Linked DNA regions of Homo sapiens: regions 1 and 3 are each linked to region 2. The links come from fine-mapping of genetic effects on gene expression. A gene starts in region 2. Each other region holds a variant in brackets. All regions are shown on one strand. Distances are from middle to middle.

The links. PIP is the estimated chance that this variant, and not a neighbour inherited with it, causes the effect.
Region 1: its variant is fine-mapped to the expression of RPN1 in whole blood (TOPMed, PIP above 0.99).
Region 3: its variant is fine-mapped to the expression of RPN1 in blood mononuclear cells (TOPMed, PIP 0.94).

The regions. Positions count from the first base shown.
Region 1 is chr3:128,618,078-128,628,297 of GRCh38, reverse strand. It overlaps RPN1 (ribophorin I), which reads left to right. Exons shown (of 10, transcript NM_002950.4): 6 at 1,466-1,565; 7 at 2,286-2,424; 8 at 2,645-2,764; 9 at 5,889-6,134; 10 at 7,705-8,329. The coding sequence ends at 7,887. Among named protein-coding and RNA genes, the nearest start is that of RPN1, 28 kb to the left of the region's middle. RefSeq lists enhancers at 10,119-10,168, 9,884-10,220, 10,189-10,220. The variant C/T (reference allele first, on the strand shown) is at 3,505.
Region 2 is chr3:128,645,833-128,656,132 of GRCh38, reverse strand. It overlaps RPN1 (ribophorin I), which reads left to right and starts at 5,315. Exons shown (of 10, transcript NM_002950.4): 1 at 5,315-5,593. The coding sequence starts at 5,333. RefSeq lists enhancers at 4,842-4,921, 5,082-5,351, 6,022-6,091, 10,204-10,300 and a silencer at 5,602-5,871.
Region 3 is chr3:128,602,065-128,612,364 of GRCh38, reverse strand. No RefSeq gene overlaps it. Among named protein-coding and RNA genes, the nearest start is that of LINC01565, 31 kb to the right of the region's middle. RefSeq lists enhancers at 3,558-3,737, 9,058-9,557 and a silencer at 3,748-3,947. The variant TG/G (reference allele first, on the strand shown) is at 5,228.

The sequences.
Region 1 (10,220 bases), 28 kb after region 2:
TTTCTGTCTCACTTTGTTGCCCAGGCTGGAGTGCAGTGGAGCGATCTCAGTTCACTGTAACCTCCCAGGCTGGAGTGCATTGGCGCGATCTCAGCTCATTGCAACCTCCGCCTCCTGGGTTCAAGAGATTCTCCTGCCTCAGCTTCTGGAGTAGCTGGGACTACAGGCATGCACCACTACGCCCAGCTAATTTTTTATTTTTAGTAGAGATGGGGTTTCACTATGTTGGCCAGGCTGGTCTCGAACTCCTGACCTCAGGTGATCCACCCACCTCAGCCTTCCAAAGTGCTGGGATTACAGGAGTGAGCCACCGCGCCCGGCCTGAATTTTTCTAATTATTGTTTACATTGTTCTTGCATGACTTACATGATTTTATTAATACCTTTAGCTTGTTTTGGAATAGCAGGAGCAGTCTCCTGGTTCGTTTTTATGGGCGTCTTGCTGGCATGTTTTCATTTTCTTACAGGGGTGTTCTTGTTTTCATCCCATTTTTCTTATATAACTTAATCTTTTTTTTTTTTTTTTTTGAGATGGAGTCTTGCACTGTTTCCCAGGCTGGAGTACGGTGGCACAATCTCAGCTTACTGCAACCTCCACCTCCTGGGTTCCAGTGATTTTCTTACCTCAGCTTCCCAAGTTGCTGGGATTACAGGCATGTGCCACCACACCTGACTAATTTTTATAGTTTTAGTAGAGATGGGGTTTCACCATGTTGGCCAGGCTGGTCTTGAACTCCTGACCTCAGGTGATCTGCCTGCCTCTGCCTCCCAAAGTACTGGGATTACAGGCATGAGCCACTGTCTGTTGATCATTTTTAATGTGACCTTTCCGAAGGAGGGATGGTTTAGAGTGGCTTTTGTACCTTCCCAGATCTCTGCTATTTTAGTGCAAAAACATGTGGCTTGCTTTCTGAGCTTTCCTCTGTGCGGTTTTTGAGTTCCATTGTCCCTATCATGTTCATTTTTGATTGTGTTGAGCAGTTTCTCCTCACTGTAGGGCACTGTCCCAGAAGGGGAGTTCTGCTCTCAGGGACTAGACTGCTGCAGACTCGTAGACCTTCTGCAGGCCCGTTTCACTCACCATTAGGCAGGGCACAACTGCTCCGAGTTTCAGCCACTCCTCACACTGGCCTGCTGTGCTCTCTAGGGAATCCCGGTTGTGTGTTTTGGGGTTCTGCTGTTCTCAAGCCCATCAGTTGCCCTGTTTCTTCTCTCTGCGTTCTCCTTCACAGACACTGATAACGTGAAGGTCTTGTGGCTGTCGGTGTTTTGACCCCCATCCCTGTCTCTGTGTTGTGGGGTTCAGTAGAGATACTTTGTTGCCTGGTTTTGTTGTAAACATGGTCCGTGGGTTTTTGGTTTTGCTGTCTACTTGCTCTGTCTTTATGTGAGCCCCTGTACTTCTTTCTCTCCTGCCCATTTGATCCGTTTTCCACATCATTGCTTATGCTTGCTTGATCCTTCAGGTGACCAGTATGCACTGAAGATGAGGTTTGTGGACCATGTGTTTGATGAACAAGTGATAGATTCTCTGACTGTGAAGATCATCCTGCCTGAAGGAGCCAAGTGAGTGTGACTGTTCCTCTCCTTTGCACCCGATTTCTCTGGTTGTACCCTTGTGGTACCCTAAGGAGAGCCTATGTTCTAGGGGCACAGTCTTTGTGTCACTTTTCTCTAGATTTACTTTATCAGGGAACATCTACTTGGCCTCTCTTGAGTCACATGTCCACTCTGACTGCCAGAATGAGAGACCCCTTGATTTTCTTCCTGTGGAGAATGTTCCATAGTGGAAGAGTAGTTCCTCATGCAAATCCAGGCTGTGCTGTTTACCAGGAGAAGGGACAGTGGGCCTGGGCAGACAAAAGCAGGACATGTCCCCTGCCCCGTAAGAAGCTCTTATTCATGTGAAGAGAAAGAACATTCAGAACAGCTCGTGAGGCATCTGTTCAAGCCTCCCAGGGATTCACTGGGTAGGATGTACAGGAGAGCTGTGTCAACTTTGTGACTCCAAGGAGTGGGGCCAGTACTGGTGAGAACTTGGGAGTGGAGGATTCAGAGGGACAGTTGTTGCCCCAGCAGACAAGGGCTTTAAAACAAAGGGCTTTCTGGCACTGGCTCCCCTGTCTCAAGAGAGTGGGTGTTCTCCATAGCTGAGAAGGGAGCAGAGTGGAGGAGTGTGAATTTAGTGATCTTGAAAGGCTCCTTAGCCTTGGAATTCTCTGATCCTAAATCTGGTTTATTGATGTAGTTGGTTGGAGGCTATATTTTATTCCCATCTTCTTCCAGGAACATTGAAATTGATAGTCCCTATGAAATCAGCCGTGCCCCAGATGAGCTGCACTACACCTATCTGGACACATTTGGCCGCCCTGTGATTGTTGCCTACAAGAAAAATCTGGTAGAACAGCACATTCAGGACATTGTGGTGAGTGGCTCCACTGTTTGCCTTCCATGGCGTCTTCCCCAGACAGTGGGCTCTGGGGGCCAAGAACTCACCTTCTGTCCCTCCTTGGGCTGGAGTCATTTGAGCTCATGGCGTCTTCTGGTCTTGGGGTGGGGCAGCAGGTCGAGTGGGCCAGCCTGGGTGAGTCTAGGCTCCCATGTCCCTACAGCCCCGATGAAGCCTGTCCTCTTGCTTCTCCCAGGTCCACTACACGTTCAACAAGGTGCTCATGCTGCAGGAGCCCCTGCTGGTGGTGGCGGCCTTCTACATCCTGTTCTTCACCGTTATCATCTATGTTCGGCTGGACTTCTCCATCACCAAGGTACCGTCTCTGCCTTCTTCCTGCTTGTCATTTGTGTCCTTGGTAATATTTCACCAGCTTGAGCACTGATCCTCACAGTGAGCCCAGGGCAGGACGCCATGGCCAAAAGACCCCTGCCTGTGCTCATCCTTGCCGGAAGGGTACTTTGTTTTTGTTGCTTGTGGTCACTAGCACAGGAGGTTAAGTCCCTGCTTCTGTCTTGCTTTGGCTCTGGAGACAGAGTAACTTGGATGCTCAGTTGAGGTAGGAAAAACATGAAAAGATTGGTGCTTATTTAGCTGTTTTGCTTCTTGTTATTCAGTGGAACTTGGAGGTGGAAGTCCCCTCTTAGTCCCCTCTCCCTCCCCACCTCCCCCTTGGTGATTCCTTGTTGGGAGCAGAAACCACTGACCTGGCCCTGTCAGCACCGTTCTCCCCACTCCCACTCTCTGCTCCCTGACAGGCTCCGTGGCTCCTTGGTCCTCCCCAGGCTGCACTGCTGTTATCCTCAGGTCATCCTCTTGCTCTTTTCTTCCTTCCTTCCTCCATTTCTCATTCTCTCATTGTTCCTTAGGGCTCTTGGCTCCATGCCCCAGGGTAGGCACTAGTACCAGGCACTTATTGTAGTCAGGTGGGTGAGGCCTGGTGGAGGAGATGAGCACAGCTGGTGCTTGAGGACTGTGGAATGTGATGACAGGCACAGCGTGTGTTTTTTTTTTTGAGATGGAGTCTCGCTCTGTTGCCATGCTGGAGTGCAGTGG[C/T]GCGATCTCCATTCACTGCAACCTCTGCCTCCCGGGTTCGAGCGATTCTGCCTCAGCCTCCTGTGTAGCTGGGACCACAGGTGCGCACCAAGGGTGTGCTTCTAGTGGGGCAACTTGGGAGGCCCCAAGGCTACCCTGAGGAGGTGACAGGCAAAGAAGGTGGGGAAGGGCATTCAGTTGGAGGGGCTGATGTTTGTGAGACAGCAGGGAGGGGTTTTGGTAGGACCTGTGAGCAAAGATGTTGATCCAGCCGAACTGTGTGGGTCCACTTATATGCAGATTTTTTTCTTTTCGTTTTCTTTTTTTTTTTTCCTGAGACGGAGTCTTGCTCTGTTGCCCAGGCTGGAGTGCAGTGGTGCGCTCTCAGCTTGCTGCAACCTCCGCCTCCTGGGTTCGAGCAATTCTCCTGCCTTGGCCTCTCGAATAGCTGGGACTACAGGTACGTGCCACCACGCCCGGCTAATTTTTTGTATTTTTAGTAGAGACGGGGTTTCACCGTGTTAGGATGGTCTCAATCTCCTGACCTCGTGATCCACCCGCCTCGGCCTCCCAAAGTGCTGGGATTACAGGCATGAGACACCGTGCCTGGTCAGATTTTTATAATCAAATGCAGATAGGAAATACAGTACTCAATACAGTGTTTGAGGGAACTGAAACCAAATATGTGGAGGGCTGACTTTTTGTATACTTGGGTTTCACAGGGCTGACTACAGGACTTGAGTATGTGCAGATAGTCGGAGATGCGGGGGGGCGGGGGCTCGAGGAATAACTGTGTGTGTGTGTGTGTGCGTGTGTGTGTGTGTAATTATTTCTGCTGAATCATTGGAGGTTAAGTTGCAGACGTTGTGCCCCTTTACCCTTGAATAGTTGAGCATGTGTGTAGCCTGAGAGCAAGGGTATTCTCTTACATAATCATAATACAATGATCAAATTCAGGAAATGTAATGTTGCCAAAAATCTGGTAGAACAGCACGTTCAGAACTTTGTGGTGTGTTCTGCCTTCTGTGCCTTCTTCCTCAAAGAATGGGTAATGTAATTGTCCATTAGTTAGTTAATACTATTAACTGGCCAGTTAATTAGTACTGTTGACCAACATCCAGTCCATAATTTTGCTGACTGTCCCCCGATCAATCACAGCTCACTGCAGCCTCAAACTCCTGGGCTCAAGCCATCCTCCCACCTCATCCTCCCAAGTAGTTTGGGACTACAGGAGCATACCATCATGCCCAGCTAATTAAAAAAATGTTTTTTTTCTCGAGACAGAGTCTCACTCTGTTACCCAGGCTGGAGTGCAGTGGCACGATCAGGGCTCACTGCAGCCTCGACCTCCTGGGCTAAAGAGATCCTACCATCTCAGCTCCCTGAGTAGCTGGGACTACAAGCATGCACCACCATGCCCGGCTAATTTTCTGTATTTTTATTAGAGATGGGGTTTTGCCATGTTGGCTAGGCTGGTCTCGAACTCCTGGACTCAAGCAATCTGCCTGCCTCGGCCTTCTACAATGTTGGGATTACAGGTGTGAGCCACTGCACCTGGCCAAAATATTTTTTTGTAGAGACGGAGTCTCATTATGTTACCCAGGCTGGTCTTGAACGCCTGACCTCAAGTGATCCTCCTGCCTCAGCTGCCCAAAGTGTGGGGATTATAGGTGTGACCCACCATTCCTGGTCCTTTCTTTGTGTTTAATAACCTTGACATTTGTGGTGTTGTAGAGACCAGTTTTATAGAATGTCCCTTAATTTTGGTTTATCTAATGTTTCCTGCTGATTAAATGGGCAAGACTGCTGTAATATATATGCAGGGCACACTGACATTATCATCCTTGTTCACATCTATCTGTCTGCCTTACTGGACTGTGAAGTGAAATGTCTGCTTCATCTTTTTTTTTTTTTTTTTGAGATGGAGTTTCGCTCTGTCGCCCAGGCTGGAGTGCAGTGGTGCGATCTCGGCTCACTGCAACCTCCGCCTCCTGGGTTCAGGTGATTCTCCTGCCTCAGCCTCCTGAGTAGCTGAGATTACAGGTGCCTGCCACCATGCCCGGCTAATTTTTTTTTCTATTTTTAGTAGAGATGGGATGTCACCATATTGGTCAGGCTGGTCTTGAACTCCTGACCTCGTGATCTGCCCACCTTGGCCTCCCAAAGTGCTGGGATTACAGGCGTGAGCCACCAGGCCCGGCTGGTCTGCTCATCTTTATGGCCCTAGTTTTGCCCATTGCTGAACCTGGTCCAGATTAGGTATCAGTAGGGGTTTGACTTTGACTTTCCAAGAAGGTGGCATTTCATTTTTGGATGGCTGCTGGTGGCAGATGTTCTTTGGGAGATAAGGTCAGAGTGGACCCAAGCCTGGATGTTGTCACACATGGTGCCTCTCCTTCCTTCAGGATCCAGCCGCAGAAGCCAGGATGAAGGTAGCCTGCATCACAGAGCAGGTCTTGACCCTGGTCAACAAGAGAATAGGCCTTTACCGTCACTTTGACGAGACCGTCAATAGGTACAAGCAATCCCGGGACATCTCCACCCTCAACAGTGGCAAGAAGAGCCTGGAGACTGAACACAAGGCCTTGACCAGTGAGATTGCACTGCTGCAGTCCAGGCTGAAGACAGAGGGCTCTGATCTGTGCGACAGAGTAAGTGTCGGGCGTCACAGAGTTGCTTGGCTTGGGGCCCTCCATGCCTCACTGCTTTGTCTAGGGCAGACACTGGGCAGCTCTCTTGCTTACCTGCATGCTTGTGGGATAAGACTGCATCTGGCCATAACTTTTCATGTGGTGCCAGTCCTTGTGGAGGAAAAAGGGATTTTTGGGGTCCTGGTGTGAGCTGGGTGTGGAGGAAGCTCTGCTAGCCTCGTCAGCACTGCGTGCCCTTGTGGCCAGTATTGAGAGTAGCTGCATCCTCTCCTGGAGGCCAGACTGTTCTAGGTCCCAGGCTGCTTATGTTGTGGTAAAATGAACCTAGACTTTAGAATCAATAGGTTTGAATCCAGGCTCTGATTCAGAGTTTGTAAACCTGGCCAAGTCACCTAACTTCTGTGCCTCAGTTTCCTCATCTATAAAATGGGAATGCTGTTAGCCCCTCATAGGGGTTCTGAGTGTGAAATGAGTTAATGCATGCAAAATATTCAGAACCCTGTCCTGATACAAGCTATGTAAAGGAGTTATCTGTAAATGAGGACAGTAACCTTTTCGCAGAGGTGCCCCTCAGAGTCACTGACTCCCCTGTCCACTCCCTGGCATTCCCTCTCCTCACTCTGTGTGAATTTCCTCATAGCACCTACCACTTTTTTTGTTGTTTGTTTTTGAGACAGGGTTTCACTCTGTCGCCCATGCTGGAGTGTAGTGGCGCAATCTCTGCTCACTGCAAGCCCCACCTCCAGGCTCAAGCGATCCTTCCACCTCAAGTAGCTGGGATCACAGGTGCACACCACCATGCCTGGCTAATTTTTTGTAGAGATGGGGTTTCGCCATGTTGCCCAGGCTGGTCTTGAACTCCTGAGCCCAAGTGTTCTGCCTGCCTTGGCCTCCAAAGTACTGGAATTACAGATGTGAGCCACCGTGTCTGGCCCACGCCTACCACTTTCTGAAACGATTTATTCTTCTACTTAAGTGTTAATTATATGTCAGCATCTGTGGACAAGATCCCTTATCTGTCCTTAGTGCTGTTTTCTGGAACCTAGAATTGTGCCGCGCGCCATGGCTCACTAAACATTTGTTGAATGTTGAATGAATGTGACTATACCAGTCCTCAATGTGACGTACAGTAGGTGACAATGCCTGTCACCCCCCCTTCCCTTGCCATTGATCTTTTGCCTAATTGAATCCCTGGAACTGATTTGACAAGCTGCAAGGAGAGAAGTGATGTTCATAGAGGAGCTGCTATGTGCCAGGGGCATGATAGGTGCTGCCAAGTAGTTTCATACTCAGTCCTCAGAGTCCTAGAATGGAGATGAGGCCCAGGGATGGTGCAGGGCTTGTTCACAAGGGCGTAAGAACGGGGCTTGTGGGTGGTGAAGTTGGCATTTGAAGCCAGGCCTATCTTCCTCCATAGCCAGCCCTGCTGCCCTGGGACACTGTGCTGTTGGCTGCATTTGTGGCTGATACCTGTGGAGCTCTGGGGTCTGTAGGCCTGGGAGATGGTGGGGCCTGCTGAGTGGGGTGGGAGGACAGCTCACAAGTCCTGCCCTGCTCTTGCCTCGGCCAGGTGAGCGAAATGCAGAAGCTGGATGCACAGGTCAAGGAGCTGGTGCTGAAGTCGGCGGTGGAGGCTGAGCGCCTGGTGGCTGGCAAGCTCAAGAAAGACACGTACATTGAGAATGAGAAGCTCATCTCAGGAAAGCGCCAGGAGCTGGTCACCAAGATCGACCACATCCTGGATGCCCTGTAGCCCCTGCCCGCATCCTCCAGGGGGCCCAGGGTGCCTGCACTTTGCTGTGGCAGGCAGATTGGGTGGTAGTGGGAGGTTGTGCATGGAGGCCAGTGAAAGCTGACATCTGTAAAAGGCCTTCAAGGAAGAGAAACCAGGCCCTGCGTCAGGCAGTGTGAGTTTGCCGTTTGTCCTTAACTTTCTTTTTTTTTTTTTTTAAAAAAAGAAAACTTTAAAAAAACTCCCATTAAAAACAAAACATCTTTGTGTTTTGAACAAAGGAATTTTCAATATTTGATTGGTATTCTGTTCTGAAGTCTAAGATATTTTTCAGCCTATAAAGCCCCCTGTTTTATGCCCTTCTAATTCTGATGTTTGGGTATTGTGTGAGTGCATGTGTTTTTTTTTTTTTTTTTAAAGCGTGTGTGAACAAATGGAAATAAAGCAGGGACTGTGAACATTTGTTTTTGGTCTGTTGAAGATCTCTCATAATTTAATTCTTAATTTTGGGAATAGTGCTTTTATCAAGTGCTTTTTATTCATTAAATAATGGATTTGCTTCTCAGCAGGTTTGCAAGGCAAGCATTTACATTTTACATATTAGAACACTGAGTTATTCTAGTACCAGAGTGTTGAAAGTGGTGCCAGAGTGTTGAAAGAGTTGACGTGGCTTATGTCACAGAATGGAGTAGTGGAGTGAGGCCTCCATTTTTGTAGTTTTTGCATCCTTCCTGTGAGTCATGTTTTACTCAGCATCAAGGAAACAGTGATGAGCAAAGCAGAGATGGTTCCTCTCAAGAGGCAAGGGATTGAAAGGTCATGTGGGGAATCGACAGTGCCAGTGAGTGCCAGGCTTTCTGCCCCTCTTTCCTCTCTGCAGGAGTTCGCTCCCTGTCTCCACCTAATGAATTCCTGCTCAGCCTCAGGATGTGTTACTTAAGGTTACTGTGTCAGGGAGCCATCCGTGGCCTGCCACACTCAGTCAAGTCCTGTGGTACCCTCTCGTTTTCCTTTGTACCTCTTCTCCACCTCATATACCACGGTTGGAATGTGTGTGATTACTGAACTAGCTTCAATAGGGCAGGGGTTTTGTCTTTTATGCTCATCTTTATGTTAACAGCTAGGTGTTCAGACCAATCTATGACACGTAGTTGGGTTATTGAATGTTTGCATGAGTGGCTTACAAACAGCTTAAATATTGGCAGGTGGGTTGAGGGATTACTGGGGAAGTCTGTAGAAGACCAGTTGTGAGGAACTGATGCTGAATTCTGTTTCAGACATGGCAAAATGGAGGTGCTCGGGACATCCAAGTGGGAGTGTCCCTGGGCAGGTGGATATTCAGGCCTGGAATTATAAGGTCTGGTGTGCAAGTGGTAAATGTGGGGCTGCCGGGCCTAGACATGGTTATGGAAAAGGTGAGAAGGAGGCTGTGGGAGGGGACAGTGCCTAGGAAGGGTATAGAATAAGAAGAGATCCAGAACTGAATATTAAGACGACAAAGTAATAGTGGCCACCTGGGTTGACAAAGACCAGGACTCTCCTTACCTGGGACGAGAAAGACCAGGACTGTGGTGTCATGAAGCCAAGTGGAAAAATGTTTCCAGGAGTGAACCATCTGAGGCTGAAGAGACCGAGCAGTGCCTTTTGGCTGTAGGAGTGGATCACTGAAGCCTTTTACCCATTGGTGACTTGAGAACTGTGTTGGTGTGGGGATGGGAATTGGACGGAAGTGAGACTTAACTTTGAGTCCTGACAAAGCATTTCGCAAACAGGCTGGGAAAGGGATGAGTGAGGGCCTTCAGGAGGCTGTGCTGCTTGAATGTTCTACTCTAAGGTTGGGGACACCAAGTGTGTTGAATGCCATTGGGAAAGATCCAGTTGAAAATGAGAAGTTGAACATAGGGATTAGGAGATTGTGCAGGGGGAAAATGGGGGATCCAAGGACAGTGGAAGGATGGGAGGAGCAAGAAGGAAGACCCTCCAGAGTCGTGCTCTGCAGTCGGATCCCTGGATGGAAATCCCAGGCCTGCCGCTCTCTGTGACCTCAGGCAAGTCTTTCCGTGCAAAATGGAGTAGGGCTGTTACCTGCTTCCTAGGATGGCTGTGTGGGTCACATGCTGTCATAATGCAAGGTGGCGTATAGCAAATGCTTGTTAAACAGCGACGGTCTCGCCGAGCTCTGGCCTGAGCCGGGGGCAGAGGGTTGGTCCTGTCCTGGGGGTTGGAAGCCGTGGAGGCCACGTTTAATCAGTGTTCACAGTGGTGTGCCCGTGGACCTGGCCTCACGCACGCCCGGCCTTGGGAGCCCCTGCGGGAGGGTGCATACCCTGACCTGCCCGAGAGGCGTCTGCCGC
Region 2 (10,300 bases):
CCGTGTTAGCCAGGATGGTCTCAAACTCCTGACCTTGTGATCTGCCCGCCTAGGCCTCCCAAAGTGTGGGATTACAGGCGTGAGCCACCGCGCCCAGCCTGGTTTCGATCCCTTGACCTCGTGATCCGCTTGCCTCAGCCTCCCAAGGTGCTGGGATTACAGGTGCGAACCACTGTGCCTGGCTGAGTTTTGACTAATATAGATAATAACAGAAATTTGGAGTGTGAAGGAACTGTTCTGAACATTCTTCCATGTGCATTTGGTGGGCTCAGTATTTTTGTTTCCTGTGATATCTGGTTAGTTCTATATTTCCAAAATTAGGGAATAAGGAGGTTTCGCTAATCTGCTGATGTGCAGTGTGGTATTTCTCACGTTTACTTGACTATGTGGAAACACTTTTCTAGAGCTTTTTACTGAGACTTGCAACACCCCAGTCACTCTGGAAGTCATCAATGGGGAAGAAATGGAGGGAACCTTGGTGTTCTCCTTTCCCACAAGGAAAATCAGGTGCACATACAACCTATGAGGAGACATGGAGGTAAGAAGGATTAATATTTGAAGAGTCGGTTATTTTGTAGAATTTTCTTCAATTTTGGTTTGTCTGATTTTATCTATTTTTTTTATTATTACTATTTTTTTGAGATGGAGTCTTGCTCTGTCACCCAGGCTGGAGTGCAGTGGCATGATCTTGGCTCACTGCAACTTCTGTCTCCTGGGTTCAAATGATTCTCCGGCCTCAACCTCCCAGGTAGCTGGAATTACAGGTGTGTGCCACCATACCTGGCTAATTTTTTGTATTTTTAGTAGACACGGGGTTTCACCATGTTGGCCTGGCTGGTCTTGAACTCCTGACCTCAGGTGATCTGCCTGCCACAGCCTCCCAAAGTTTTGGGATTACAGGCGTGAGCCATGGCGTCCGGCCTTCTTTTTTCTTTTTTTTTTTTTTTTGAGACAAAGTCTCACTTTGTCATCCAGGGTGGAGTGCAGTGTCATGATCACAGCTCACTGCAGCTACAACCTCCCAGGCCCAAGTGATCCTCCCACTTCAGCCTCTTGAGTAGCTGGGACTACAGGGGCATGCCACCACACTAGGCTAATTTAAAATATTTTTTGTAAAGATAGAATGTTGCTATGTTGTCCAGACTGGTCTCAAACTCCTTGGGGTCAAGCAATCCTCCTGCCTTGGCCTTCCAAAGTGCTGTGATTACAAGCATGAGCCACCATGCCCAGCCTTGTTTTGTTTTTTGAGACAGGGTCTTGCTGTCACCCAGGCTGAAGCGGCATGAACATAGCTTACTGAAGCCTTGATCTCCGGGGCTCCAGTGATCCTCCTGCTTCAGCCTCTCAAGTAGCGGAGACTACAGGTGTCAGAGGCATGTGAACGACAACAACTCCATCCTGAATAGGAACTGGGTAAAACGAGGTTGAAACCTGTGAGCTGCATTCCCATACAGTTAAGGCATTTTAAGTCACAGCGTGTTGGGAATTGGTGGGTTCTTGGTCTCACTGACTTCAAGAATGAAACCGCAGACCCTTGCGGTGAGTGTTACAGTTCTTAAAGGTGGCGTGTCTGGAGTTTGCTCCTTCTGATGTTTGGATGTGTTCGGAGTTTCTTCCTTCTGGTGGGGTTCGTGGTCTCGCTGGCTCGGGAGTGAAGCGGAGGACCTTCGCGGTGAGTGTTAACAGCTCTTAAGGAGGCGCGTCTGGAGTTGTTCGTTCCTCCCGGTAGGTTTGTGGTCTCGCTGGCTTCAGGAGTGAAGCTGCAGACCTTCGTGGTGTGTGTTACAGCTCATAAAGGCAGCGTGGACCCAAAGAGTGAACAGCAGCAAGATTTATTGCCAAGAGCGAAAGAACAAACTCTCCAGTGTGGAAGGAGACCCCAGCGGGTTGCCACTGCTGGCTCTGGCAGCCTGCCTTTATTTTCTTATCTGGCCCTACCCACATCCTGCTGATTGGTTCATTTTACAGAGAGGGGAGAGGTCTGTTTTGACAGTGTGCTGATTGGTGTCTTTATAATCCCTGAGCTAGACACAAAGGTTCTCCACGTCCCCACTAGATTAGCTAGATACAGAGTGTCCACACAAAGGTTCTCCAAGTCCCCACCAGAGTAGTTAGATACAGAGTGTCAACTGGTGCATTCACAAACCCTGAGCTAGACACAGGGTGCTGATTGGTGTGTTTACAAACCTTGAGCTAGATACAGACTGCCGATTGGTGTATTTACAATCCCTTAGCTAGACATAAAGATTCTCCAAGTCCCCAACAGTCTCAGGAGCCCAGCTGGCTTCACCCAGTGAATCCTGCACCCGGGCGGCAGGGGGAGCTGCCTGCCAGTCCCCGGCCGTGCGCCCGCACTCCTCAGCCCTTGCGTGGTCGATGGGACTGGGCGCCTTGGAGCAGGGGGCGGCGCTCGTCGGGGAGGCTGGGGCCGCACAGCAGCCCACGGAGGAGGGGGAGGCTCAGGCATGGCGGGCTGCAGGTCCCGAGCCCTGCCCTGCGGGGAGGCAGCTAAGGCCCGGCGAGAAATCGAGTGCAGCGCCCGTGGGCCGGCACTGCTGGGGGACCCAGCACACCCTCCGCAGCCGCTGGCCGGGGTGCTAAGCCCCTCATTGCCCAGGGCTGGCAGGGCCGGCCGGCCGGCCGCTCCGAGTGCGGGGCCCGCCAAGCCCAGGCCCACCCAGAACTCCAGCTGGCCCGCAAGCGCCGTGCGCAGCCTCGGTTCCCGCTCGCGCCTCTCCCTCCACACCTCCCTGCAAGCTGAAGGAGCCGGCTCCGGCCTTGGCCAGCCCAGAAGGGGGCTCCCACAGTGCAGCGGTGGGCTGAAGGGCTCCTCAAGCGCGGCCAGAGTGGGCGCCAAGGCCGAGGAGGCGCCGAGAGCGAGGGAGGGCGCACGCTGTCACCTCTCAACAGGATGAGATAGAAGGTCGGCACAAAATACTGGTCATAAAGACCTTACTGATAAAACAGGTTGCGGTAAAGGAGCCGGCCAAAACCCACCAAAACCAAAATGGCAATGAGTCCTCACTACTACACTCCCACCAGCGCCATGACAGTTTGCAAATGCCATGGCAACATCAGGAAGTTATCCTATATGGTCTAAAAAGGGGAGGCATGAATAATCCACCCCTTGTATAGCATATCATCAAGAAATAACCATAAAGATGGGCAACCAGCAGTCCTCGGGCTGCTCTGTCAATGGAGTAGCCATTCTTTTATTCTTTTACTTTCTTAATAAACTTGCTGGCTGGGGGCGGTGGCTCATGCCTGTAATCCCAGCACTTTGGGAGGCTGAGGCAGGTGGGTCACGAGGTCAGGAGTGCAAGACCAGCCTGGCCAAGATGTTGAAACCCCGTCTCTACTAAAAATACAAAAATTAGCCGGGCGTGGTGGCGGGCGCCTGTAATCGCAGCTACTTGGGAGGCTAAGGCAGAGAATTGCTTGAACCCGGGAGGCACAGGTTGCTGTGAGCCAAGACTGCGCCACTGCAATCCAGCCTGGGCAACAGAGCGAGACTCCATCTCAAATAAATAAATAAATAAAATAAAAAATAATAAACTTGCTTTCACTTTGCACTGCGGACTCATCCTGAATTCTTTCTTGCGTGAGATCCAGGAACCCTCTCTTGGGGTCAGGATCCAGACCCCTTTCCTGTAACACAGGCACTTGTCACCAGGCCCGGCTGATTTTTGATTTTTTGTAGAGATGGGGTTTTACCCTGTTGCCCGGTCTAGTTTTGAACTCCTTGGCTCAAGGGATCCTCCCTACTTGGCCTCCCAAAGTGCTGGGATTGGTGGCATGAGCCACTGTGCCTGGCCTTGTCTGATATTTATGACTAGATTGAGGTAATGGATTTTCAATAATTTTGTGGCAATACCACAGAAGTGATGTGCCTTTCTCAATGGATCCTATTAGTAGATACCTAATGTTACTATATTTTATATGTGGTGATGTTAACTTTGATCACTTGTTTAAAGTGGTGCCTGCCAGGATTCTCCACTGTAAACTATTTTTTCCTTTGTAATTACTAAACATTTTATTTTTATTTTTTAATTTCCTTTTGAGAGGGAGTCTCGCCCAGTCGCCCAGGCTGGAGTGCAGTGGCACGATCTTGGCTCACTGCATCTCCTGCCTCCCGGGTTCAAATGATTCTGGTACCTCAGCCTCTGGAGTAGCTGGGATTACAGGCACGCACCACCACACCCGGCTAATTTTATTTTATTTATTTATTTATTTATTTTGAGAAGGAGTCTCACCCTGTCGCCTAGGCTGGAGTGCAATGGCGCGATCTTAGCTCACTGCAACCTCCGCCTCCCAGGTTCAAGCGATTCTCCTGCCTCAGCCACCCCAAGTAGCTGGAATTACAGGCGCCTGCCACCACGCCCGGCTAATTTTTTGTATCTTTAGTATAGACGGGGTTTCACCATGTTGGCCAGGCTGGTCTCGAACTCCTGACCTCAGGTGATCCACCCGCCTCGGCCTCCTAAAGCGCTGGAATTACAGGCGTGAGTCACCGTGCCCGGCCTAATTACTAAACATTTTAGTAGAGATGTTTTGAAACTTTGCATATATCCTGTTTCGGCTTCAAGTTCTGCCTACTAATTTTAGCATTCATCCGTGGATGTTGGGGAAGGCCAACTTTTACTTTCTCAATCTGAGCAAAATTTCACTGTTTTAAGGAGCAAAACGAGCAGAATTATTGGACAGGAAGAATGGTAGGAGAGAGTAGAGACCTAGGCAAGGGCCGCTCCTGTAAAAATTAGGTAAGTGAAAACTAGTAATAATAAGTACACTCGCGGCTGGGCGCAGTGGCTCACGCTTGTAATCCAGCACTTCGGGAGGCCGAGGTGGGCGGATCACGAGGTCAGGAGATGGAGGCCACAGTGAAACCCCATCTCTACTAAAAATATAAAAAAAAATTAGCCGGGCGTGGTGGCGGGCGCCTGTAGTCCCAGCCACCCGGGAGGCTGAGGCAGGAGAATGGTGTGAACCCGGGAGGCGGAGCTTGCAGTGAGCTGAGATCGTGCCACTGCACTCCAGCCTGGGCGACAGAGCGAGACTCCGTCTCAAAAAAAAAAAAAAAAAAAAAAAAAAAAAAAAAAAAAAGTAAGTACACTCGCACTACGAACAGAAGGATATCCCGAGCAGCTCTGAGAGGGCTTTAGCAATCAGGCGCCGGGTCGGCTTCCCGGTTGCCCCGGAGACAGGGTCCTTCCTTGTTCGGCGCCGCCATCTTGTGTCACCAGCCCTTGCCCAATGAACGGCTGCTCAGTGGCGGGAGGGCGGGCTACCGCGCCCGGGCCCTACCCGCCCTGGCGCACTGCTCTTCCCGGTCATGGAGGCGCCAGCCGCCGGCTTGTTTCTGCTCCTGTTGCTTGGGACTTGGGCCCCGGCGCCGGGCAGCGCCTCCTCCGAGGCACCGCCGCTGATCAATGAGGACGTGAAGCGCACAGTGGACCTAAGCAGCCACCTGGCTAAGGTGACGGCCGAGGTGGTCCTGGCGCACCTGGGCGGCGGCTCCACGTCCCGAGCTACCTCTTTCCTGCTGGCTTTGGAGCCTGAGCTCGAGGCCCGGCTGGCGCACCTGGGCGTGCAGGTGAGTGTGGGCGACCCCTCGCCGCCGCTCCCGGGACCCTTCCCGCCTCCCTTCCTGGCGGTCCCCCGACTCCGCCCGCGCCCCTCTAGGCCTCAGGAAATGCGGAGACCCGGGCGGCGGGCGGGGCACAGGGGGTCCGTGGGATTGCCTCGGGGCCCGCGAGGAGTCCTGGGTGGCCAGGGGCCCCGGCGCCTCCGCTGCCCCCGGTGCGCGCCCGCCCTCCTGCCTGGGCCACGTCAGCACCGGCCTGCCCCCGCGCGGGTCGCTGCTCACGTGGGCAGCTGCTGGGATCCGCGGCCGACCAGCCTCGGAGCTTGCCCCTGTTTGGGCCGTTCTCGGCACCGCTCGGGAGACCTCGGGCCGGTAGAACGCACCTCCCTTCCGTAAGGCGAGCGCGGCAGCCCCTCGGCCCGGTGCCAGCGGGCGCCAGACTTCATTTCTCACGGCCCGACGAGGTGGCTCAAGTAGAGGACAAATAAATGAATTAAAGTGAATTTCATTCTCTTAATTCAGTATCTGGTCCGTTGTAGGTGCTTCTTTCTAGACATAGAGAACCATCAGAAATGTAACAGGTTTCGCATTTTTAAGTTGGTAATCACTTGAAATCCCTATGAATGTGATGCATTTTAAGGTTCCTAGTGAACGCTTTCTAAATGTTAAAACTCTTTTTAAAGTTAGTTTTAAAACTCCTGCACGTAATATAAGTTCTCTTATGCTGTACAGAAAAGGAAAGTCCAATTTTCTCCCTTCCCCCTGCTGCTTCTCATTCTTACACCTCGGCAATAAATGGCTGTGTTTGGCTTAAATGTTTCCAGGTATTTCAGTGATCACCAAAGAAAATGTTGGGTTTGGGAGTAAAGGGAATGTACATACACAGAGGTTTGGTTTTTATTACTATTGTTGTTAAACAATTTCATTAAATGATTACCTAATTATTTGTTGAGAGAATAGTCATTATAGTGTCACATTTCTTCTAAGCACACTTCGTTCTCTGACTGAATATGGAGCTATAAAGATGGGTTTATAGAGATTACGTTTCTGAAATGACTCCTATTTTCTTTCATGCGTTGTCCATGATGAAATAAAGTTTTACTCAAAGGCTTGTGGAAAGATAGATCAAAACTTCATGTAAATTTGCCTTGCCATCTTTGAATGTCTTGAATGTTAAATCCCGTTCTTTATAGAAGCCAGTTGTGATTTAATGAGCTTGTTACAGTATAAGTGGACCACAGCAGGAGCTCGGCTATCCTGCCATCATGCCTGCGAGCTAGGTTAATGTACTTATTTTATCTTGTTTTTATTTTTTCTCCCAACTTTATTGAGGTATAATTGGTATACAAAAAACTGCCTATTATTAGTATATTCAAAATACGTATACACTGGTGTAACCATTACCACAATCCGGGTAATAAACATATCTGTCACCTCCAGAAGTTTCCTTTTGTCCTTTAGTTTGTTTGTTTCTGTGGTAAGATACTTTCTTACTGGGACTCTACTGTGTGTCAGATATTATGGTGGGTATTTTAAATATATTCTCATTTAGCCCTCATAGCAACCATTTAAGGTATAAATCCTCATATAGCAGGCAAGGAGGCTGTAGTCTGTCAGGTTAAGTTATTTAGCCCCTTACATGCGGTCTTACAGTGCAGAGTAAGTCAGGGCTCCAGCTTATTCCGTAAGTTGTGTGTTCTCACACTGTATAATGTTGCCTCTTCTGGCTTTTATGGCTGTGAGATAGGATTGTATTGGGTATAAGACTTGCAGTCACATTAACAGATTTATTTAAAATCATTTTCAATTTTGTAGTCCAAGACACCAGTTAAATGGATATATGTGCTATTTTGTACTCCTATCCCAGTGGGAAACAACTGGATGATAAACTTAACAAGGAGATGTATATTTTCCAACAGTTGTGTTGGAAACTGATGAGGTTGCTGAAATGTTTTTCAGTGGGTTCTTTTCTTTTTCTTTTTTTTTTTGAGACGGAGTTTCACTCTCGTTGCCCATGCTGGAGTGCAATGGCGCTATCTTGGCTCACTGCAACCTCTGCCTCCTGGGTTCAAGCAATTCTCCTGTCTCTCCTCTGGAGTAACTGGGATTACAGGTGCATGCCACCACGCCTGGCTAATTTTTGTATTTTTTTTTTGATGCAGAGTCTTGCTCTGTCGCCAGGCTGGAGTGCGGTGGTGCAATCTCGGCTCACTGCAACCTCTGCCTCCCAGGTTCAAGTGATTCTCCTGCCTCAGCCTCCGGAGTAGCTGGGACTACAGGCGCGTGCTGCCACGCCCAGCTAATTGTTGTATTTTTTTTGTAGAGACAGGGTTTCACGCATGTTGGCCAGGATGGTCTTGATCTCTTGACCTCATGATCCGCCCACCTCGGCCTCCCAAAGTGCTGAGATTACAGGTGTGAGCCACTGCGCCCGGCCAATTTTTGTATTTTTAGTAGAGACAGGGTTTCATCATATTGGTCAGGCTGCTCTCGAACTCCTGACCTCAGGTGATCTACCTGCCTCGGCCTCCCAAAGTGCTGGGATTGCAGGCGTGAGCCACCATTCCTGGCCTTCAGTGGGTTATTTTCAAACCCTTGTAGAATTTTAGGAGCTAGCAGAAGGGACCATGGTGGTTACTGACTAGGAGCCAGTGGTTGCTTCTCTTTTTACCACCAAGGACCCATCTAATGATTTTTCCTCTCTTTTGGATCCTGTATCTGAAATATTTTGGCATGCTAATATTTTATTAAGTAACAATATTTTTCAATAAAACAAATAAGTCTGTATAACTGAACACAATGAGAGTTCCTGATACACACACATATACTAGAATGTTCCTTTTTTTTTTTTTTTTCTTGAGGCAAGTTCTCAATCTGTTCCCCAGGGTAGAGCACAGTGGCCCAGTCAGAGCTCACTGCAGCCTCGAATTTCTGGGCTCAAGCTATCCTCCCACCTAGCCCCCTGAGTAGCTAGGACTACATGTGCGCACCACTACGCCTGGCTAATTAAGAGCAATTTTTTGTTTTTTCAGAGATGGGGTCTTGCTGTGTTGCCCAGGCTGGTCTTCAACACCTAGCCTCAAGCAGTCCTCCCAAAGTGTTGGGATTACAGGTGTGAGCCACTGCACTTGGCCTGGCTGGAATATTCCCACTGTGATAAGATTCTAGTCAAAGTAATGAAACTTGTTTGTATTAGACTGTACAGCTTTATTGAGGATGATTGTATGATTGTTTTTAGGCTTTTTGATATATTTTAAAAGTTCTCCAATACAGCTTTTTGTATCTTACTGGGAATCACTACTTCAGTCCTAAAAGATAGTCTAATTTTTGTTTTTTTCAGTTGAGGGTGGGTTGGCAGAGAGATCAGTGGGATATGTATACCCTTCTCCCTTGCAGTCTGCTCCACAGTCTTATGATTGGAGATAACTACTCTTTCTCAGAAAACCCCTGCAGCCTGCTGGAGTGAACATCCTTTTCCTGGTTATGTATCTTGTTGCTGTGAGGGTACCCCAAACAGTGGTCATTGGCTCCTCCCCAAGGGTATTTTGCCACTGTTAACCATTTTTTTTTTTTTTTGAGAGGAAGTCCCACTCTGTTGCCCAGGCTGGAGTGCAGTGGCACGATCTCAGCTCACTGCAACCTCTGCCTCCCAGGTTCAAGTGATTCTCCTGCCTCAGCCTCCCAAGTAGCTGGCCTTAAAGGTGCCTGCCACCACACCCAGCTAATTTTTTTATTTTTAGTAGAGATGGGGTTTCACCATGTTGGCCAGCTGCTCTCAAACTCCTGACCTCAGGTGATTGGCCTCTCAAAATGCTGGGATTACAGGTGTGAGCCACCGCACCCGGCCAACTTTTTTTTTTATGAGATGGAGTTTCACTCTTGTCGCCCAGGCTGGAGTGCAGTGGCATGGTCATGGCTCACTGCAGCCTCCACCTCCTGGGTTCAAGCAATTCTCCTGCCTCAGCCTCCCAAGTAGCTGGATTACAGGCACCTGCCACCACGCCCAGCTAATTGTTGTATTTTTTAGTAGAGATGAAGTTTCACTATATTGGCCAGGCTGGTCTCGAACTCCTGACCTCAGGTGATCCGCACCCCTCCTCTGCCTGTCAGAGTGCTGGGATTACAGGCGTGAGCCACCATGCCTGCCCAGTTTTAACTTTTATATTAGTGAAGAAACAGTTTTAGGCTGGGCGTGGTATCTCGTGCCTGTAATCTGTGGGAGGATCGCTTGAGCCCAAGAGTTCGAAACCAGTCTGGGCAACATAGGGAGATCTTGTCTCTACAAAAATAAAAACCCATGAGACTTTTTTTTTTTTTTTTTTTTTTGAGACGGAGTCTCACTCTGTCGACCAGGCTGGAGTGCAATGGCACGATCTCAGCTCACTGCAACCTCCGTCTCCCAGATTCACGAAATTCTCCTGCCTCAGCCTCCACACGCCACCACACCCGGCTAATTTTTTGTTTTTTTAGTAGAGATGGGGTTTCACTATATTGGCCAGACTGGTCTTGAACTCCTGACCTCGTGATCCGCCCACCTTGGCCTCCCAAAGTGCTGGGATTACAGGTGTGAGCCACTGCGCCCAGCCCTGAGACTTTTCTATTACATCACTAAATACATTTCTTTGAGTATGCTTATTTGAATGTAAATGAGAAAAGCATCAAGAAAGAGGCCTTTGGGAAGTATATTTGGAAGTGTAATCTTTTTGTGTATGTGTG
Region 3 (10,300 bases), 44 kb after region 2:
AAAATTATATACATATTTTTTAAATAGTAGAAATGGGGTCTTGCTATATCGTCCAGGCTGGTCTTGAACTCCTGGGCTTAAGCGATCCACCCACCTCAGCCTCTCAAAGTGCTGGAATTACAGGCATGAGCCACCACACTGGCCACCTGTCACGTTCCTAAGTCTCAGCTCCAGGTCCTGTCACTCTCCCCTCTGCCTCTTGGGGCCTGGCTTGAAGCCCTGAGGCCTGCCCACTTTCCTGACCACTTCTCTCCATCAGGATGGGGCCCCAGGCCTGGAGCTTGTGCATGGCACAAAGGCCTGGAGGAGAGGGAGTGGGGTCCAGGCACACAGGGAGTGCATGTTGGATGGACATGGACGAAGGCATGGCCACCCACCACCAGCACCCGCAGCTCTACCCGAGAGCCCAGGGTTTCCCTCTCCACCAGTAGAGAGGTGTGGCCTGCAGCTGGTCCACTGGGCCAGGTGCTGGGAGCCCTGGGGGAGCAGGACCAGAGGATGGGGTGGGGGGATTTGTCAGAGATGGAGGCTGACCTGAGGAGGAGATCCTTCTGAATCTGACAGGGCTAGAGAGGGGTGATTTGGGGAGGGAGGCTTGGGCTGGAGGAATCCATACACACTCGGGGTGAGGGGGAAGGAGAGGCGTTAGCTCCAGGAAGGTGTTATTTTGGGCTGTGACCCATGTGTGTGTGTGTCTGTGTGTCTCTGTGTATGCATGTGTGTGTCTGTGTATATGTATATGTGTGTGTCCTTGCACATGTCATGTGGCTGTGCAAGTGCATGTGTGTGTGCATGCATGTGTGTGTGTGTTGTGTGTGGTGGGAGGCAGCCTGGGGCTGTCAGAAGAGGGCAGAAGGTGGGATCAGGCCTAGCTGGACCTGAACCCTGCTTGTGCCAGCTGGGTAACTTTGAGGCAAGTCATTTAAGTTCTTTCTGCCTGTTTCCCCATTCAAAGAATGGACCAAATATTACTTACGTTGTGAAGATGACAAATATGTGTGTAAAATCCAGGCACACACGATGTGCTTAGGACACAGCAGTTATGATTTATTTGTGTGTTGTCTTTGTGGAGTGGGGGGAGGATTTGCAGCCTTTTAAGGACTTGGGAATTTCAGGTCTTGACAGAGCCAGTCTGGAAGGCCCATCTGGTGTGGCTGCTCTGAGGGACTGGGGACATTGCCCCCGTGTTTACAGAGACCCATAGTCAGACATCCATGGGCCAGGCACAGAGGCAACACAGCAGTCCTGCCCGCAGGGCCCCCAGTGGACAGGCAGAGGCGCAGATAATACAGTGGCTGTCCCAGGGTCCACAGCTGGGTGTGGGGGGCTTGAGGGTTAGAATTGGCCGGGCCCTATGCGGGGCATTTGATTCTAGTTCGTTCTATTTTTATCTTTTTCATCAGATCAGGGCACCATGCCCTCTGGGCTCGCTGCGTCTTCCTGCTTCCCAGCCCCAATTTCCCTCCCCTTTCCTACCTCCAGCGCATCTTGTGTGAGACGCATGGGGACAGGTGTGTGTACACCCTGGGGAATGTGTGGTGGGTTTTCATTTATCTGTGTCCATGTCGATCAAGAGCACATGCTCATGCTGCCTGTCTTAGTCTGTTCAGGTTGTGATAACAAATAACAACAATCGGGGTACTTAGAACAACACACATTCCTTTTTCACAGTTCAGGAGGGTGGTAACTCCAAGATGAGAGTGGCAGCAGGGGCGGGCTCTGCAGAGGGCTGTCTTCCGGGATGCAGCCTGCCGGTGTCCTCACTGTGTCCTCGCAGGCAGAAGTTGGCGTGCCGAGCCAGTGCTCTGCTATCAGGGCTTGGAGCCCAATTATGAGCACTCCTCCTTCATGGCCTAGTCACCCCCAAAAGGCCCCACATCCTGATACCATCACTATGGAATTAGGACATCAACAGGTACATTTTGGGGGGATAAATGCATTCAGACCATGGCACTGGTTTCAGTTGTCATGTAAGTCACCACTCATATATCAAGGCTAACTCATGACCCTAGATCTACATGGGGTCTGCCCTCTACCTCACAGCAGAGATGGACACCCACACCACCATCTTCCCCGTGTCTCACCACCTGCACCCCAATTACGGACACCTATGCCTCTGTCTTCCCTGCGTCTCTCAGCACTCTACAGCGAGTGACACACACACCTTCATCTTTCTTCCATGCTTCATGTTGCAGTGGAGAGGCTGGGGATTGGGAGGAGGTGCTGCTGGGGTATGGGGAGTGAGATCTGTGCCGCAGTGGGGTGGGATTCAGGAGAAAACCAGGCAGTGTCCCACCAGTTCACTTGCTTGTAACACAGAAACCTCTTCAATGGAAATGGAACCCTGTCTAGAATGCCAGACTCTCTGCTGACCATTCTCTCTGGTCAGAACTGGATCACTTTATTTGATGTAAATTGTATTTGATTTATTTTTTTCTTTTTTAAGAGATGAAGTCTCACTATGCTGCCCAGGCTGGTCTCAAACTCCTGGGCTCGAGTGGCCCTTCCGCCTCAGCGTCCCAAAGTGCTGGGATTACACGTGTGAGCCACAGCACTGGCCATAAATTGTATTTGATTTTTACAGCTACCTGTATTTAGCCATGTGAAAGTGATTTTCCACTTATGTCAGAGATACAAAGTTTCGTTTAGGGATAAATTGTAAAAAAGAATATAGGCCTGGGTGGTGGCTCATGCTTTTAATTCCCATACTCAGCTTGAGTACCGGAACCAAGACTAGTCGAGGCAACATAGTGAACCTCATTTCTTTAAAAAAAAAAAAAAGAAAAATGGCTTGAGCAGAGTGGAGCTGGATTAGCTGGAAGCTCCACCTCGCAGAGGCCGGGAGCCGGTGGCCAGGGTTGGGTTGCTGGATTTGACGCCACCTGGCTGTGTGACTGTGGAAAGGTGCTCAGCTGCTCTGAGCCTCCATTTTCCATTCATAAAACGGGGTCATATTAATTTCTAACAAGAGCGTGGTTGTTGGTGTGATCCTCAAATAAGCTGACAGCGGTCAGGTGGTGCCCATGGTCAGTACTGTGTAGGCCTGGCGTTAGGATGTGAATATGAACACGGGTGATAGGTGCGTCCTGCACATGCTGCAAGGTGGACCTGAATGCTGGCAAAACACTGATCTAGTTCAGCTCATGTTTCAGAGGGGAAATGGTCCCTTTTGCCTCATGCCACACTCCCCTGGCCACAGTGGAACCCAGTGGCTATTAAGGGGCTGTCTGGGGTCAGTCCTAATGGGTGGCTTTAGAGTCAGACGGGTCTCTGAGCCTCAGGGCCTCATCCATAGCATGAGATAACCCCTTTGGGAGGCTGAGGGAGGTGGATCATGAGGTTAGGAGTTCGAGACCAGCCTGACCAACATGGTGAAACCTCTACTAAAAATACAAAAATTAGCGTGGTGGTGCCTACCTGTAATCCCAGCTACTCAGGAGGCTGAGGCAGGAGAGTCGCTTGAACCTGGGAGGCGGAGGTTGCAGTGAGCCGAGATCGCGCTGCTGCACTCCAGCCTGGGCGACAGAGAGAGACTCCGTCCCCCCCGCCCCCAAAAAAAAGAATGAGATAACCCCATGCTCGGGGGGTGGTCATGGGACTATACCTGCAGAGCACACAGCAGGCGCTCCATAAATGCTGGAGTCATAACACCCCATGTCCCATGTGCCAGCTGCCCAGCAGCAAGTCTGGCCTCCTCCTCCGGTTCTCGGCCCTGAACAAAGTCACCGCTCCAGCGACAGCTCCTTGGCAAAGTGGGGCTCTGGGCCCTGGCGAGAGCGCGGCTGTCCTGCCCCACGCCTGCGAGGCCGGCAGGGATTGGAACCCGCGGCCGCCAGAGGGCGCCCCCGCCTAGGCCACGCGCACCTCCCGGCTGGCAGAGGGGCCGGTCCTCAGCGCGGTGGCAGCCTGGGCGCCCGCCCGCCACTACTGGGCTGTGTGTCACCCTGCCTGCCTCAGTTTCCTCGGCTGTGGCGTGGGATTCTCCCCGGGATCGCCTCGCAGGGCTGCTGAGAGGCTCGATGAACGCCAGCGGTTGTTGCGGCGCTGCTGTTCCAAGCCGGGGGTGACGGGAACCCACGTCCTCACGCCCTGGCTGCTCCCGGCTGCCCCGCGGGCCGGCAGCTTCCCGTTCAGGAAACTCAGCCTCGGGAAGGGCGGAGAAAGGTCCCGCGGCTGCGAGGAGCCCAGCGGGGCTTGGCGCCTGATGACCGGCTCCGGAACGGGCTGTTACCCCGCGTATCTCGGTCTCTGCAGCGGCCAAAGTCGCCCGCTGACCTGGAGCACCTGCAGGCCCTGGGCAGAGGACCCGGGGCCATTCCCGCAGCCCTGGCCTGGGAGCTCCGGCTTCTAGTGGTGGCTCCGGGTCAGGTCCTGTGGGGTCCCAGGGACATTCCCAGGCCGAGGTTCCTGTTCAGAGGCCACCCTTTGGCACCAGAGCCATCCAGCGCGGCCTGCGATTCAGGGCCAGAGGAAACAGCAGACACTGAGTGGCTGTCTGGCCCCAGCTTTGCAGAGCCTTTGCTTAGCCGGGAGTGTGGATGCCCGTTGGAGAGCCATGGCTTTTCCCAGCCTGTGTGGCAGCGTTGGGTGGGGCGGCCCCTCTCCTGGGCTGACCCTGAGCAAGGCAATGAGGACCGGTGCAAACTCCTCACAGCCTGTGGGCAGTTCATTAGCTGTGGTTCTCAGGTGCTTCTCATACACACTCTCAGTAGGGCACAACTTCCACGCTTCCATTTACTTATTTAGAAATGTGGTTTGGCTATGTTGGTCAGAGTGGCCTCAAACTCCTGGGCTCAAGCCATCCTCCTGCCTCGGCCTTCTGAGTAGCTGGGACTACAGGCGTGCGCCATTACGCCCTGCTACACATCCCTGCTTTAGCAGGTGAGCGAACGGGGCATGGATAGGGCAAATTCAAGGCTTCACGCCAAGTAATTGGGAGAACCTGGACTTGAACCTAGGTCTTCACCCCTCCCTGACATCAGGGAGATGGCCTTCCTGGAGCTGCAGCCAGATCCCACTGTCCCTGGCATTGTGCTGTGTCCATGCCTGTGCTACACTCCCTACCCTAACCCCCGTCTCACTCCGATTCTCCCCTCCTTCAAGGCTTAACACCTCCACAAATGCCACAAAACCTTCCCCAGTGATCCCCACAGCTACTGGTGTCCTGGGTCTTCGAAGTGTTCCTTCTTGTCTGCCTGGAAAAACTCCTATTCATTCTCTTTTTTTT[TG/G]AGATGGAGTCTGGCTCTGTAGCCCAGGCTGGAGTGCAGTGGCACGATCTCGGCTAACTGCAAGCTCCACCTCCTGGGTTCACACCATTCTCCTGCCTCAGCCTCCCGAGTAGCTGGGACTACAGGCACCCGCCACCACGCCCGGCTAATTTTTTGTGTTTTTAGTAGAGACGGGGTTTCACCGTGTTAGCCAGGATGGTCTCGATCTCCTGACCTCGTGATCTGCCTGCCTCGGCCTCCCAAAGTGCTGGGATTACAGGTGTGAGCCCCCGCGCCCCGCTGAAAAACTCCTATTCATTCTCTAAAACCCACCCCCAGGGTTACTCCTGGGAAAGCTTAAGTGCTACTTTCCTTCTCCCTCTCATAGACATGGTTACTGCCTTGCTGGGGTCTCTGTGCACTGGGGTTACAATGTTGTGATGGTATCACCACATCTGTTTATATCCAGATTCATTACAAAATGTTTCTGTGTTTTAAAAATTGTAAAAGTGGTATGGGCCTATAGTCCCAGCTACTTGGGAGGCTGAGGAGGGAGGATCGCTCTAGCTCAGGAGTCTGAGGCAAGCCTGGGTGACGTAGCAAGACCCTGTTTGTAACAACAAAGAGAGATTTTAAAAATTGTAAAAGGCCAGGCGTGGTGGCTCATGCCTGTAATCCGAGCACTTTGGGAAGCTGAGGTGGGCAGATCGCTCAAGCTCAGGAGTTCGAGGCCAGCCTGCCGAACATGATGAAACCCCATCTGTACTAAAAATGTAAAAATTAGCTGGGCACGGAGTCGAGTACTTGTAGTCTCAGCTACTCAGGGGACTGAAGTGGGAGGATTACTTGAGCCTAGGAGGTTGAGGTTGCAGTGAGCTGAGATCACACCACTGCACTCCAGCCTGAGTGACAGAGTGAGCCCTTATCTCAAAAAAAAAAAAAAAAAAATCCCAATTGTAAGAGTTAACACATGCTCATACTAAGGATCCAGACAGATCAGAAGGGTATACAGAGGCAAGCAGAATCTCCGGCTTCCTACCAGCTTCTCTTCCAGAGAAACACAGTGTTAGCAATTTCTTGTGAATTCCTCTGGAAAGTCTCCATTCATTTACAGGATGTCACACTATATTGCTTTAATTATCCTTCTCTGTCCACTGCTCCATACCTAGTTCCCTGAGGACTGGCTAGGATCTGACTTAGGTAGGTGCTGGAATCAGTCCTGGGCCGGGCTGGAAAAGATGATCAGAAAATTTTGCATGGGATAGTTTTATTCCCTCCTGACACCAACTGACCAGATAGCATGGGATCTGGTGAACCTCCTTGCTCCTAATTGGAGGCTGCCATCTCCTAGCTGGCAGATGTATTTTCTTTTCCTTATAGAATATTATTATCATTACTGAAAGATGAATTCATTTTCAACATTTAAAACCTGAGAGATATTACTTAAAAAATATAATTTTCCCATCTGGCACAGAGGTTCATGCCTATAATCCCAGACCTTTGGGAGGCCGAGGTGGGAGGATCGCTTGAGCCCAGGAGTTCAGCCTGGCCAACAGAGGGAGACCTCATCTCTACAAAAAATTTTAATAATTAGCCAGGCATGCGGTATATGCCTGTAGTTCCAGCTATTTGTGAGGCCAAGGTGCAATTGCTTGAGCCCAGGAGGTCGAGGTTACAGTGAGCTATGTTTGTACCACTGCACTCTAGCCTGGGCAACAGAGCAAAACCGCCTCTTAAAAAAAAAAAAAAGAACAGTAGAATTTTCCAGATCTCTTGAAAAGGTTCAGAGGGTTCAACTGAGCACTCAGGTCTGTGCAGCCTCACCTCACTCCTTGTCCCCGAACCCCGGGGCCCCTAAGCCTGTGTCCCATGTCCTTGGCAACCTAATGAGGAAGATGGACCTGCATGAAAATAGTCCATGACAAGTGACTGCAGCAGCTGAGTTTCCCAGCAGAGGTGGGAGAATGATTGAGACGGACCCCAGGCTGGGGACTCTGCAGAAGCGTGAACCCCAGTGCTGTCCTGTGGGACACATACTCCTCCCGGTCCATGGGGTTCACACTCTGGATCCTCACTGTTCTGTTCACTGCAGAGAGGAGCAGGGGTGGGAAGTGGGTGGGCCTGTTTCAGGGTGGCCCCTGCTCAGCTCCAGGCATAGGGCCACGAAGGAATGTGGGCTCAGAGTGGCCAGAGCTTCCAAAGCAAAGCTGGAAATACAGCCTGAAAGAATGGACTTAAAGAAAATAAAAACCTGGTAACCCATGCAGCAAGCTCCGTATGCCAGTGGCCCTCAGTTTATGTCTCTGATTTGCTGGTACCCTCATTGCTTTAGAGAAAAGTTTCCCCCACCTAAGAAATAGGAAGTTCCTAATGGCAGAACCCAGGACAGCCCTTTCAATGGCTGCATTTTGCTTTATAGAAAACCCACCAGGCTGCCCCTGAGCTTCTGGTTGTCCCATGAGGAGAGGGAACTTCACTGGCCTGAGCCTGTCGACCGTGTGTGGTCCTGAATATGATGACCCCAGAGCAACCCCCAGCCTCCTCCTGCAGTCCTGCTGTGCTCTGCCAAGTCCAGTCCTGCCTGGCTGCAGAAACACAGGGACACTCTGCAGCACTGAGAGAAGTGCTCGCCAAGGAGAAACACATGTCTTCCTCCAGGGAAGCCACCTTGGGGGCTGGCAGGGCCAGGGACTGGAGCGCAGGGTTCTGGGCCAGGAGGTTTGGAGTCAGCTCTGGCTTTGGGGAGCTTCCAGGCTGAGGAGGCTCAGCAGGCAGCAGCTCCCTCCCACCCTCCTGCACAGCCAGGACCTGCCTGGGCATCAGACTGGCCCATGATACAAGCCTGCCTTCACACCTTGGCCTCTTCCCCCTCCAGGTGTCCAGAGCCCGGCTGGCGCAGGTGGGGCAGCCAGGCTGAGGCCGCAGGGCAAGGCCGGGCTGAGCTGTCCTTTTGCCTCTCTCCGGGTGAGGCCTCCTCTGTCCTTCCTTTCCCAGTGCCCCCCCGCCCTGCTCCTCTGCGGGGGTACAGCATGGGGAGGTTGTTGACAATTTGTGCATTAATCTCTCTGCCGGGGGCCTCCTGGTCAGGTGGTGCTTATCAGGGCCCTGCTCCTGTCAGATGGGCCTTCCGGAGCCCGTGGGCGAGGGGGGGTGGCAGAAGCCCCTGCTGCAGGGCCTGGAGGCTGCCTCACCATCCCCAGGCCTTCACATCCCCTTGCGCCCCCGCGGGCAGCCTGCTTTACCACATCAGGATACAGAACATTGCATGAATTCCGGTCTCAATGGAATTATTTCAGAATTCTGGTCAACCGCAAGCTCAGGGTATTTCACAAACTATCTATCACTGCTGTGCGGTGGGCAGAGTCTGGGCAGGGGGCAAGTAACGGATGCAGGGAGGCCCCGTCCACTGCCTGTGGGGGTGGCATGTCCCCCCCAGTGGCACCCCTGCCTCTGCAGACAGATGGCGTGTCCCCTGCCCCCCATCAGCAGGGGAGCTCAGGCCTGGAGTGGGGGCTTAGGAGAGGCAGCGGGAGGCCAGGCCCTGGCTTTGAGGGTACCTTCGAGAGGGCACCCAGGTTTGGGGCCCACTCCTACCAGCGTGGGGCCTTGGCAGGTGCTTGGAGTCTCAGTTGTTCCAGCTGTAAAATGGGATCATGATGCCCAGCCCCCATTAAGCAAATGTTCAGAGATCGGCAAGATGCGTGCCCTTGCCGATTCTCTTAGCATTTCAGGATTACTACAGGGCAGCATCTATGAAGTGCCTGGCTGAAAGTGGGTGCTCCATGACTGGGAGCTGTACCGTAATGAGAGCAATACTATGAATCATTCTCCTGATAACACCTCCCCACCCCTCTATACTTGAGATCATGCATAGAACTTGGGGGAAGGAGAGACCCTACCTCCAGGGTGGCAGACATCTGCACACTACCCGTCCTCTACTGTGGCGAAGGTGGCAACATCTCCAAGGAGCTCCTTCCTTCAATCATGGACGGTGCCTCAGAATCCTCCTCATCACAGTGCTGGACATCATTACCGACCCCTCAGAGTAGGCGCCAGAGGAAGCCGCTTAATTATTCTGGCCCCAACTCGTGAGAGTGGTCTGAATTGGCAGGGCAAGGGGTCCCCCCTCTGCTTCCTAAACTTTCCTGGAAGCTCCAGGTCCTTTCTCCAGAACCTGGCCCCAGCCACCTTTCCCAGAGGCAGGGATTGGAGGGCCAATCTCGTCTCTCCCTCTGCAGGCCTCCTGCTGACCATGAGTGATTAGGCCCCGCACTGGGAGGAAGGAGATCCGGGCCCCCAGGCTGGCACAGGCTCCAGTTCCCACAAGGGTCTAGGACTCCAGGCCGTCTGTTTAGCAAGACGCTCTTAGGCAGCATGGCCAAAGTTGGGCTGGAGCACCCGGGGGCTCTGCTGGCCCAAGCCAAACTCAGACTGCCCAGCCAGTGGGGATGGGCTCCAGGGCCTGAATCTGGGATAACAGCGCTGTCCCTCTTGGGCAGAGGGTAGGGGAGGACAAGGCCCTCGTCTAAACATTTTTCAAGCCCACTTTGGGACCCCCAGCTGGCTGAGGGTATCAACAAGAGTTGGGGAGGGAACTTTTGAAATCAGGAGGCCTGAGAAACCCAGGACTCCTGTCCTTGTGGTAAGGCTATGAGGGATACAGAGCTTGCGGCAATTCCCCAAGGCCATTTAAATCATTCTCCACCCCGATGATGGCTTTTTCTTGTCCCTTTAATGAGATGCTCCCCCTGCCCCCACAGCCATTTTGCAAGCTTTCCTGGGGTCCTGCGCACCTGTGGGCTGAGATCCAAGGCTGTGTGAATTCTTCCATAGACAGGACCAGAGTGCACAGCCATTCAGCCTGTGGTACCTGGGCTTCACCTGTTATTTTGGAGATTGCGTATATTGGTTATGTTTTTCTGCCTCATTCTTTTCTTTATTTTTAAACTTTTGGCCGGGCAGGGGAGCTCACATCCACAGTCCCAGCACTTTGGGAGGCCGAGGTGTGGGCAGATTGCTTGAGCTCAGGAGTTTGAGACTGGCCTGGGCAGCATGGCGAAACCCCGTCTATACAAAAATCAACCAGGCATGAT